Homo sapiens: one gene and its partner. The protein of the gene in region 2 purifies or fractionates together with the protein of the main gene of each other region. This does not show direct contact. Each region holds a gene or a part of one and is shown on either strand. Other genes may lie near its edges.

Region 1 (7,030 bases), on a different chromosome or scaffold from region 2:
ATGACCAATAAGAGGCACAAACACATCAGTACCATGACAAACATAAATGAAAAATTGCTTTCTGATCATCAGAATGGCAAGATATTGAAGACCAATAATAGAACTGTCAAAGGAAATGGGCAGTCTAACACACTTCGGGTAAAAGGCTAAACAGGTACACTGTTCACTCTTGTGTCTGAATTCCATCATTTTTACCTCCTTACAAGTACTGGTACTGTATGATACTATATAAGTATTCAATAATCACGTGGTTCTCAAATTATGGAATCTCAGGAGCCCTCTACATCCCTAAAAATTAGTAAACAGATTAATGCTTGCCAAGGATAGGGGACAGCTTACACAAAAGTGCAGGAAGGAATTTAGGGTGGGTGAGGAAACCGTTCAGTATCTTGATTGTGATGGTAGTTGAATGACTGTATGTGTCTGTCCAAAAACACAGAACTTTTTATTAAAAATGGTGAACAGATTCTATGTGAATTACATCTTTTAAAAAATCGGACTTAAATTTCTTGACAACCCCAAAAGGTTTTGTTTATGTTGGCTACAAGTATCAATACTTAGCATCTTAGAAATTATAACTGAGAAAATTTTAAATAGTTGTGGCGGCTAAAGCAACTCCAACATCCGCCATGTTGACTTATGATTAACCCCAGTTCTGGGATTGCCTCTAAGATTTATATTTTATCTACTGTTCCTTGTGTAAAAGTATACACTTACCGATCTTGCCCTTAGGTCAAACAACCTTGACGCTATTTCACTTACCATAAATCCTGCTCTTAAGCAACTGTCCTACACATCTCTGGTTGGGGGTTGGGGGTCGGGTAATGGGGTGATCCACCATCTCCTTGGGGCCACCCAAGACATGGCTTCTGTTCTTAAGTCCCTTTTAAAGGTTTCTTTCTAAGAAACTGGATTCCTCAGCCTCTCAGCTTCCTCAGCCTTTGGGGATAGGACTGCATAGACCTGTCCACTATGCAACAATTGTTCTTCATGTTTTCATTTTTTAAAAAGTAAATGTATTAAATGTTAACATAAATAATGTATTCTTCAAGCCTGGCCAACATGGCGAAACCCCGTCTCCACTACTAAAAATACAAAAATTAGCCGAACTTGGTGGCAGGCGCCTCCCAGCTACTCCGGAGGCTGAGGCAGGAGAATCGCTTAAACCCAGGAGGCACAGGTTGCAGCACTGAGCCGAGATCGCGCCACTGCACTTCAGCCTGGGCGACAGAGAGACTCCGTCTCAAAAATAATAATAATAATAATGATAATGTATTCTTTATGAAAAATAACTTTTCCAAAACAAAAAACATTTAGTGAGAAGAATCACACTGTGTACATTCTAACAAATGTCTGGCTTCAAATAGAAAACTGTTAGATTCTCATATCTACTTCCTTCTGTTACAGTATCACAACTCAGGTAGCCTCTGGAAAACTCCACTGTACACTTCTGAAAAAATGAGAGTGAAAAAGATAACATCTGCATATTATTACGAAAGTAATTTTAAACTGGCAGTGTCAGAGAATCCCATGGGTCCCTGGACCACAATGTGAACATCTGATTCAGCCTATACAAAAAAAAATTTTTTTAATCAAATTCTGAACATGTAGTAGCAACAAAACTTACTTTTTTCAAATCAAAGAAATAATATCTTATGCAGATAATGTGTTCTACTTTAATGCAGTAATACCATCCTCATCCAGGTCAAAATTTGTACCAACGATTTAAACTGAGCTACAAACTTCAACATAAATGAAAAATATTTCTGAGGTCTAAGGATTTTTTAAAACCAGTAAGTAGTCCATAAGAAAGATACAGCATCATCCTCCAGACCTCACTCATCAACTATCCGTAGGGCAAGGCAGATGAAAGACAGCAAGAACACAAAGAAAGTAGGCAAAGAAATGTCTGACCTCAAAGAAAGAAGAGGTCCATACAACTAAAAGCACAGTAGAATAACTACAAAAGTAAAGCAGTATTAGAGCAAACGCACCCTGGTGTAAAATCCAATAAAATACAACTACTGTCCCTTGATCGCATTGCTAAAAGAACTCAAAATGCTGTTTCAAGACTATATCCCCATTCTGCAGATAGTGAAACTACGCCAGGTAACTCTTGCTTGTACAGTGTCCGTCGTGACTGTGAAAAGGGGAACGCACTCGCTTCTCACATGCTAGGCAGGGTGTTAGGACACTGCGTGAAGGGGAATCCTGGTCTGGCTACAGGAGGCTTTTTGTTTCAGTGCTTGTACAACTTTCATAACTGGAGAGTAGTCCGCAACCATCTATTACTCCAAGAGACTGAGTCAGAAACCTGCTGTCTCCTCACATGACTTTCAAACACTGCGAGCGAGTGGCGACACTGCGAGCGAGTGGCGACACTGCGAGCGAGTGGCGGTACCGCGAGGAGGCCGCCCAAGCCCTGGGCTGGCGCGGATATCTGTGGTTCCGAAACGCTGCGGCAGCTTCTGTCAGTCCTGGGACTTCTGCGGGCGGTTGGCAAGGTCGGCCCTGCTCGCCCAGGCTACGGCCTCGCGGACCCCAGGTCACGCCTCCTTTGAGGAGTACTAGAGCCTCCGTCCTCCCCCACGCTGTTTCCCCATCTGCACTCAGTAAGTCAGACCAACCGGCCCTTGGCGCCCCTCCAACTCTACCATCGAACTGTCTGGGCTAGCGGCCACTCAGCCGCCCACCCGACCCACCCGACCCACCCGACTTAGACGGTCCTCGCCGTCAGGAGCACTCTGAGGGGTCCGGCCCGCGGCGCCCCGCACTCACCCGGCTGACGTTTCACCGCCATCACTGACACTAGATAGTGCGCGATGTCAAAAAAGGGAAACATGGACGTGCGGGAGAAGGCCAGAGCCAACTCGTCCCATGGAGAATCCATAACGACCACCGACCGCGGCAACCGAAGCAGCCGCGGCTACTGGTTCCCCGCGCTCGCGCGGTGAGGAGTAGGAGAGGGCACAGCCGCGGCCGCCCGCTCCTCCGCGCCGGCTCCAGCTCCGCGCGTGCGCCCTGGCGCCGAGGGGGCGGGGCCGCGCTTCGCGGGAGCCGCAGGCTCACCGGCGCTAGGCGGGTGGGCGGGGCGAGCGGGTTCCCCGCGGCTCCAGCCGGCTCTTGCCTCGGTTCTCCTAGTAAGGGTCCAGCGTCTTCTTGGTCCTGGGCGCAGTGCAGGACCTGGAGAGCGTGCAGATGAACAAAACACGGTCCTCAAGGGGAGACGCTCAGAGTTGGATTTATTTCTGTAAATTGATGTCATTCACCTAACATTTATCGAGCAACCACAGTGCAAGTCACACTGTGACTTACTGGAGATATAAAAATAAAACAATAATATCCTGACCTCAAGAACTATGCGTTCCCTGAAAGAGATTTTTTATAAAAAGAGAAAAAACGCACATAATGGTACAAAAGCAGGTACTGAGAAGTATAGCTGCCGTGCGAGAGCAGTTCGAAACGAAGATTACAATTCTGGGAAGTGAGTAAAGTGACATGTGAGCTGGACTTTAAAAGTTAAGTGAGAAACACAAGCTAGGTGGGAGATGGAGGGAGGTGTTTTGGGTTGACTACAAAGTGAGAAATGAGGTTGGGAAAAGTCCTCGAATGGCAGACAAAGCCAGGCAGTTTGGCTCCAGAGGTTAAATTCTTGATCAATCACTATGTTAAGCTCAGAGCCAGAATCTCTTCTCCTAATCTCTACGCTAACTGGGTTGTTTGGTGGAAGGTGAGGGAGTAGAGGTGCAACGAAGCAACAAGATTAAGAATAGATTGATGAGAAGCGACTGACAACGGAAAATCAGAGGGTATTCACTGGTCCAAGCAAAAGGTAGTGGAGGCTGTGGCAGCAGAAATTGAGACCAATTGTGGGAAACATGGGTAGAAGCAGAATATCGTCAGTGAGTGTCAGTCTGTACAGGCGGGAAAGGAAGCATTTGTCAAATAAAATGAGGAACGGGTGAGTAGGAGGATTGTGGTTGCATTCTGATAAATAGGAAACAAGAAGGAATAGGTTTGGGTAAGAAAAAAAACTAGCTTGGCACACTTATTTGATGTGTGAACAGATTATGCTGGCACCAGGAAATTGGAGAAACGTGATTAGCTGCTAGGTAGGTGACAGCTTCACGGGTGTATGCACTGCAAAAGGAGAATTTTTTTTATCTGAATATGTATTCATTAATTTTAATTCATTTAACAAAATGTTTTTTGCGTGCCTACTATGTAACCAGCATTTTGCTGGATGTCAGAAATACTGCCCTAAACACTAAGTGTTTAAAACGTAGGAAAATTGTAGTAAATCTCTACACTTCATTACTTATCAAGAAAGAATAGACTTGTTCAAATACTTTTCACGTGTGGTTTTCTAAGCAAGCACTTCCCGTAGAGAAAAGTCTTTAGACCTGTAGCACACTTTCTAGCAAAACTAAGGGGAAAAAAACCACCTGTGAATATTTATACTTTCCTGTTTAAGTCTGTTCTTTCCATACTTTTTACACATTCGCTTATTTTTGGAATTTTAGTTTTGCGAATTTAGGCTCAGAGTTTGGATATTACTTCTTTTTTTTCTTTTCTTGTTTTTTTTTTTTTTTTTTTTTTTTTTTTTTGATATGTAATCTTGCTCTGTTGCCAGACGAGTGCAGTGGCGCGATCTCGGCTCACTGCAACCCCCAACTCGCTGATTCAAGCGATTCTCCTGCCTCAGCCTCCCGAGTAGCTGGGATTAAAGGCACGTGCCACCACGTTTTTTTTGTATTTTTAGTACAGACGGGGTTTCACCATGTTGGCCAGGATGGTTTGGAACTCCTGACCTCATGATCCGCCCGCCTTGGCCTCCCAAAGTGCTGGGATTACAGGCGTGAGCCACTCACACCCAGCCTGGATATTATTTCTTTAAATATTTTACATTTTAACAGTCTTAAATTTTGCAAAATATATGGTTAGTCTTTGGACTTAAAAAAATATATGATGTAATCTTTAAGACACTACTGAATTGTGTGTCTATACCAGTATTATTCTGGGGTACCATTAAATCCATTATTAACATCAATAAGGCAAAATGAATAACATCAGAGGTTTTTTTAAGGAAGTAAATCAAGCACTTTACTTGCTTAAACAGAATAATTCCAATAGAAAGGAATTAATTATCTCAGACTCTAAAGATAATTTGAAAATTGTTGCATTTCAAAACAGTAAGAATAAGCTTGGTCCTATCTGCCTAGAGCCTAAAGAAATTTCCTTATAAAGGTCTAGGGGAAATTAAATCCTAATCTCACAAAAAAGGCAAGTTCCATCTACATTTTAAATGCGCTCACCGTATTTGCTTCTGGTCAGTGGTTGAGTTATTTAGTCTATTAAAATGAGCATTGTAGGAGGAAATGGAGGATGGAAAGACCCCTTTCCTTCTTACCTTTAAATTACCATGCTATTGAACTTTTTAAAGTACCTTAGAGTCCACAATTAGGAAGTTTTACATTAAATGGACCAATTGCATTTTAATTACCAATTACCTTTAAATTGGTGAGAAGGAAAGGCAAGATTTGGGAGAATTACATGTGAAGATTCAAAGTTTTCCTGACTTTTGGAAGCAGTATACAAAATTACATAATTATTGGTGATAAAATGAATCCAATTTACAAAGTATAGCTTATTCATTAGGAAGCCAAACTGGTCTAATTGTATTAATATCCAAAAATGAGTTCTGTGGGGTGTTTTTTCGTTTTGTTTTGTTTGTTTGTTTGTTTGTTTACTTGAGACTGAGTTTCGCTCTTGTTGCCCAGGCTGGAGTGCAGTGGCACAATCATGGCTCACTGCAACCTCTACCTCCCAGGTTCAAGCAATTCTCCTGCCTCAGCCTCCCGAGTAGCTGGGATTACAGGTGCCTGCCACCACACCCAGCTAATTTTTTGTATTTTTAGTAGAGACGGGTTTTTACCATGTTGGCCAGGCTAGCCAGGCTGGTCGAACTCCTGAACTCAGGTGATCCACCTGCTCAGCCTCCCAAAGTGCTGGGATTACTGCGTAAGCCACCGCACCCGGCCTGAAGAAGAGTTTTGACTAAACCTGTTGGAGGCACTTTTTAGTTCAAAAATATGTGAATCTAATTTTTATAAACCAGGTTTTGCAGCACCAGCATGATTAACATTTGGGGCTAAACAATTCTTTGTCATGGTGGACTGTGCTTGCATTGTATGATGTTTAGCAGCATCACTGGTACTAGATGCCAGGACCATGCACACACGCACACACACACACACTCCACTTGCAACAACCAAAAATGTCTTGGCTTTGCCAAATGTCTTCTGGGGCAGGGGCAGGGGTTGGGGGACACAAGATCACCCCTGGTTCAGAACTACTGCTATAAATGAATAAATGCTTTCTTCAACAATATATGCCTCTATTAATACAAACAATATGGTCATGTCACTAATGTTCCTTATCTCTTTAATTCTAGAATAATTGTATAACCCTTCTTAGTTTCAGTTTACACATCCATCTTCCTGGGTCAAACTGACAATATCCTGAAACCCAGTATCATACACGCAATCCTAGCTGTTTCTTCCCTGCAATACTGCTTTCTACCCACTAAGTGGCATGCCTTTCACTTTGGGAAATCTATAATAATAACTTTTTATTTTATTTTTTTATTAATACATCATACTTGCACATATTTATGAGGTACATGTGATATTTTGATATGTGCACACAACGTGTTATAATCAAATCAAGGCATTTAGCCTATCCACCACCTCAAACATTTATCATTTCTTTGTGTTGGGAACATTTCAAATCATCTTTTTTGTTTTTCTCTCTTGAATCTTAAAGGTCTATCAATCAAATCATCTCATCTAGCCATTTTGAAATAAACAATATACTATCGTTAACTATAGTCACCCTACCACGCTATTGAACTTTTTAAGGTACCTTAGAGTCCCCGATTTGCAAGTTTCATATTAAAGGGACCAATTGCACTCCTAAACCTTAGTATCTTGGTCTGGCATTTTCATTCTAAAGTTGTTTTGATAAGCAC
Region 2 (3,217 bases):
TCAGGTGATCCTCCCGCCTCGGCCTCCCAAACTGCTGGAATTACAGGCATGAGCCACCGCTCGGCCACCTCTGGAGTTCTGATTGTTCCCACAGAAGAGACAGATCTGACAAGTGGGGCTCCAAGGTCATGGCTGGTGGCTATGCTTTATGGTGAGTCTGGGCATCTCTGAGTCTGTGTTCTTTTTCCTTTTCTTCTCACCCTGTCCTCCTAGGCAGCAATCAGCATCTTTGGCATGGTTGGGGGACCGCTGCTGGGACTCTTCTGCCTTGGAATGTTCTTTCCATGTGCTAACCCTCCTGTGAGTGATGCATCTGGATCCACAGTCATGTGTAGCAGGATGGACCTGGGGGTTGGCAGGGCTGTCACCAGGAGAGCTGAGGACTGCCGTGAGGGCTGGCAGGACTGGCCTTGTGACAGGCCTGCACTGTGTCTCGGCAGGGTGCTGTTGTGGGCCTGTTGGCTGGGCTCGTCATGGCCTTCTGGATTGGCATCGGGAGCATCGTGACCAGCATGGGCTCCAGCATGCCACCCTCTCCCTCTAATGGGTCCAGCTTCTCCCTGCCCACCAATCTAACCGTTGCCACTGTGACCACACTGATGCCCTTGACTACCTTCTCCAAGTAAGGCAGGGCTTGCTATCTTCTTGTTTTCTCAAAGCCCTCCTTTGAGGGCTTTCACAGGGGTCTTGCTAAGGGATGGGCCACCAGAGGCCCCAGGGAAATGTTGGGTATTGGGTCCCAAGACCCTGGGACCATGCGGGCAAGTAGAGATTGGTGCCCAAGGAATGCCCTGCCAACGAATTGCTAATTGTTCTCACCTCTGCTCTTCCCAGGCCCACAGGGCTGCAGCGGTTCTATTCCTTGTCTTACTTATGGTACAGTGCTCACAACTCCACCACAGTGATTGTGGTGGGCCTGATTGTCAGTCTACTCACTGGTAAGGGTGTGGGATTGCGGTGCAGATGAGCACCGAGGGGTTAACAGAGGGCCCTAAGGGACTCTAGGGAGAAAGGCTCCTGCCCTCTGAGCTCTTGGGTGTCCGTAGCTGTCAGGCTTTTCTGCTGGGATGTAGGAGGTGGGTGGGGGCTGGGGTCTCTGGGGGCCAAGGGAGGACATGGGGCCCGCTGCTGTGGATGGTTCCACCCAGAGACTCAGAAGCACATTTCCATTCAGGGAGAATGCGAGGCCGGTCCCTGAACCCTGCAACCATTTACCCAGTGTTGCCAAAGCTCCTGTCCCTCCTTCCGTTGTCCTGTCAGAAGCGGCTCCACTGCAGGAGCTACGGCCAGGTAGTACCTGCTGTCCAAGTGACCCCTCCCTGCCCTTCTCCACAGATGCCACTGACTCTTCAGGTTCCCTTCTACCCCTTTTCTCTCCCCCTGCCCCGGGTGCCTCTCTCAGGATCAGCTAAGCCTAGGCTGTCCCACACGGCTGTCTCAGGTTCTACCCACAGGACTGCACTGGCTTGGTGGGCAGAAGGATCTCAGGGCTCAGAGGAGCTCAGCCCCAGCCTGGGCCAGTCAGCTCCCCTCCCCAGCCCACCCTGTGCTCCCTGCTGTGCTATGCCCTCCCTCTTTTCCCCCTGCTCTCCCTCCCGAACCCAGCCTTGCTGGGCTCCCTTCTGGCGGGGACCTTTTTTGTGTGAATCCTGTCAAGCACCCGTCATCCGTCTTCACCAGTTCCACCCCTTTGGCTCTGTGTTTGCAGGACCACCTCGACACTGGCCTGTTTCCTGAGAAGCCGAGGAATGGTGTGCTGGGGGACAGCAGAGACAAGGAGGCCATGGCCCTGGATGGCACAGCCTATCAGGGGAGCAGCTCCACCTGCATCCTCCAGGAGACCTCCCTGTGATGTTGACTCAGGACCCCGCCTCTGTCCTCACTGTGCCAGGCCATAGCCAGAGGCCACCCTGTAGTACAGGGATGAGTCTTGGTGTGTTCTGCAGGGACAGGCCTGGATGATCTAGCTCATACCAAAGGACCTTGTTCTGAGAGGTTCTTGCCTGCAGGAGAAGCTGTCACATCTCAAGCATGTGAGGCACCGTTTTTCTCGTCGCTTGCCAATCTGTTTTTTAAAGGATCAGGCTCGTAGGGAGCAGGATCATGCCAGAAATAGGGATGGAAGTGCATCCTCTGGGAAAAAGATAATGGCTTCTGATTCAACATAGCCATAGTCCTTTGAAGTAAGTGGCTAGAAACAGCACTCTGGTTATAATTGCCCCAGGGCCTGATTCAGGACTGACTCTCCACCATAAAACTGGAAGCTGCTTCCCCTGTAGTCCCCATTTCAGTACCAGTTCTGCCAGCCACAGTGAGCCCCTATTATTACTTTCAGATTGTCTGTGACACTCAAGCCCCTCTCATTTTTATCTGTCTACCTCCATTCTGAAGAGGGAGGTTTTGGTGTCCCTGGTCCTCTGGGAATAGAAGATCCATTTGTCTTTGTGTAGAGCAAGCACGTTTTCCACCTCACTGTCTCCATCCTCCACCTCTGAGATGGACACTTAAGAGACGGGGCAAATGTGGATCCAAGAAACCAGGGCCATGACCGGGTCCACTGTGGAGCAGCCATCTATCTACCTGACTCCTGAGCCAGGCTGCCGTGGTGTCATTTCTGTCATCCGTGCTCTGTTTCCTTTTGGAGTTTCTTCTCCACATTATCTTTGTTCCTGGGGAATAAAAACTACCATTGGACCTAGAATTTGGGCTCCTGTACTGTCTTCACCTGCTCTTGTCCACCCTACTGCATCCTCTGGTGAGGATAAGGAGTCCTATCCTATGTACAGGTCACCTTCCTGTGCTGAGGAGGGGGGCTGTGGCTTCAAGTCCCTGCTGTCCCTGTGTCTGCAGGGGACAGTGTTGTGCTCACCATGGTAGAAGATGCACACCCTCTCCTAGGGCTTCTCATCCCCTGGGGCTTACTTAGTCTGTCCCTTCTCCGGCCCCACTTTCCCTTTGCCAGAACCTTTTGCTCTCAGATTTTTACTTTTGGAACTGGAGGAAGAATGTTCCCATCTGATTTTAGAAACGGAACATTCTAGCTGGACTTTTATGGTCTTGTGAAGAACACTGTGCTCACACCCTCCCACACCTGGCCTCTGCCCCTGCCTGGCCCTGTTCAGCTGCCCACATCAGCTCTGCACCAGCTCTCCGGGGTCTCTTAACAGAGACCGGGTCCCAGGCATATCTGAATTCAGCCTCAACTGAGGCCTTCTCC

Evidence for each region.
Region 1: the proteins of SLC5A6 (region 2) and TMEM38B purify together in Homo sapiens (affinity purification with mass spectrometry; 2 studies listed by BioGRID and IntAct, with this or other methods). This does not show direct contact.

What each region holds. Positions count from the first base shown.
Region 1 is NC_000009.12:105,690,521-105,697,550, reverse strand, and holds the start of TMEM38B (trimeric intracellular cation channel type B), read right to left. Parts: upstream 3,011-7,030; 5' UTR 2,891-3,010; coding exon 2,779-2,890; intron 1-2,778. UniProt on the Homo sapiens protein: Intracellular monovalent cation channel required for maintenance of rapid intracellular calcium release. Acts as a potassium counter-ion channel that functions in synchronization with calcium release from intracellular stores.
Region 2 is NC_000002.12:27,199,071-27,202,287, reverse strand, and holds the end of SLC5A6 (sodium-dependent multivitamin transporter), read left to right. Parts: intron 1-213; coding exon 214-300; intron 301-440; coding exon 441-622; intron 623-834; coding exon 835-938; intron 939-1,174; coding exon 1,175-1,290; intron 1,291-1,708; coding exon 1,709-1,852; coding exon of another isoform or gene 1,853-1,898; 3' UTR 1,899-2,701; downstream 2,702-3,217. UniProt on the Homo sapiens protein: Sodium-dependent multivitamin transporter that mediates the electrogenic transport of pantothenate, biotin, lipoate and iodide.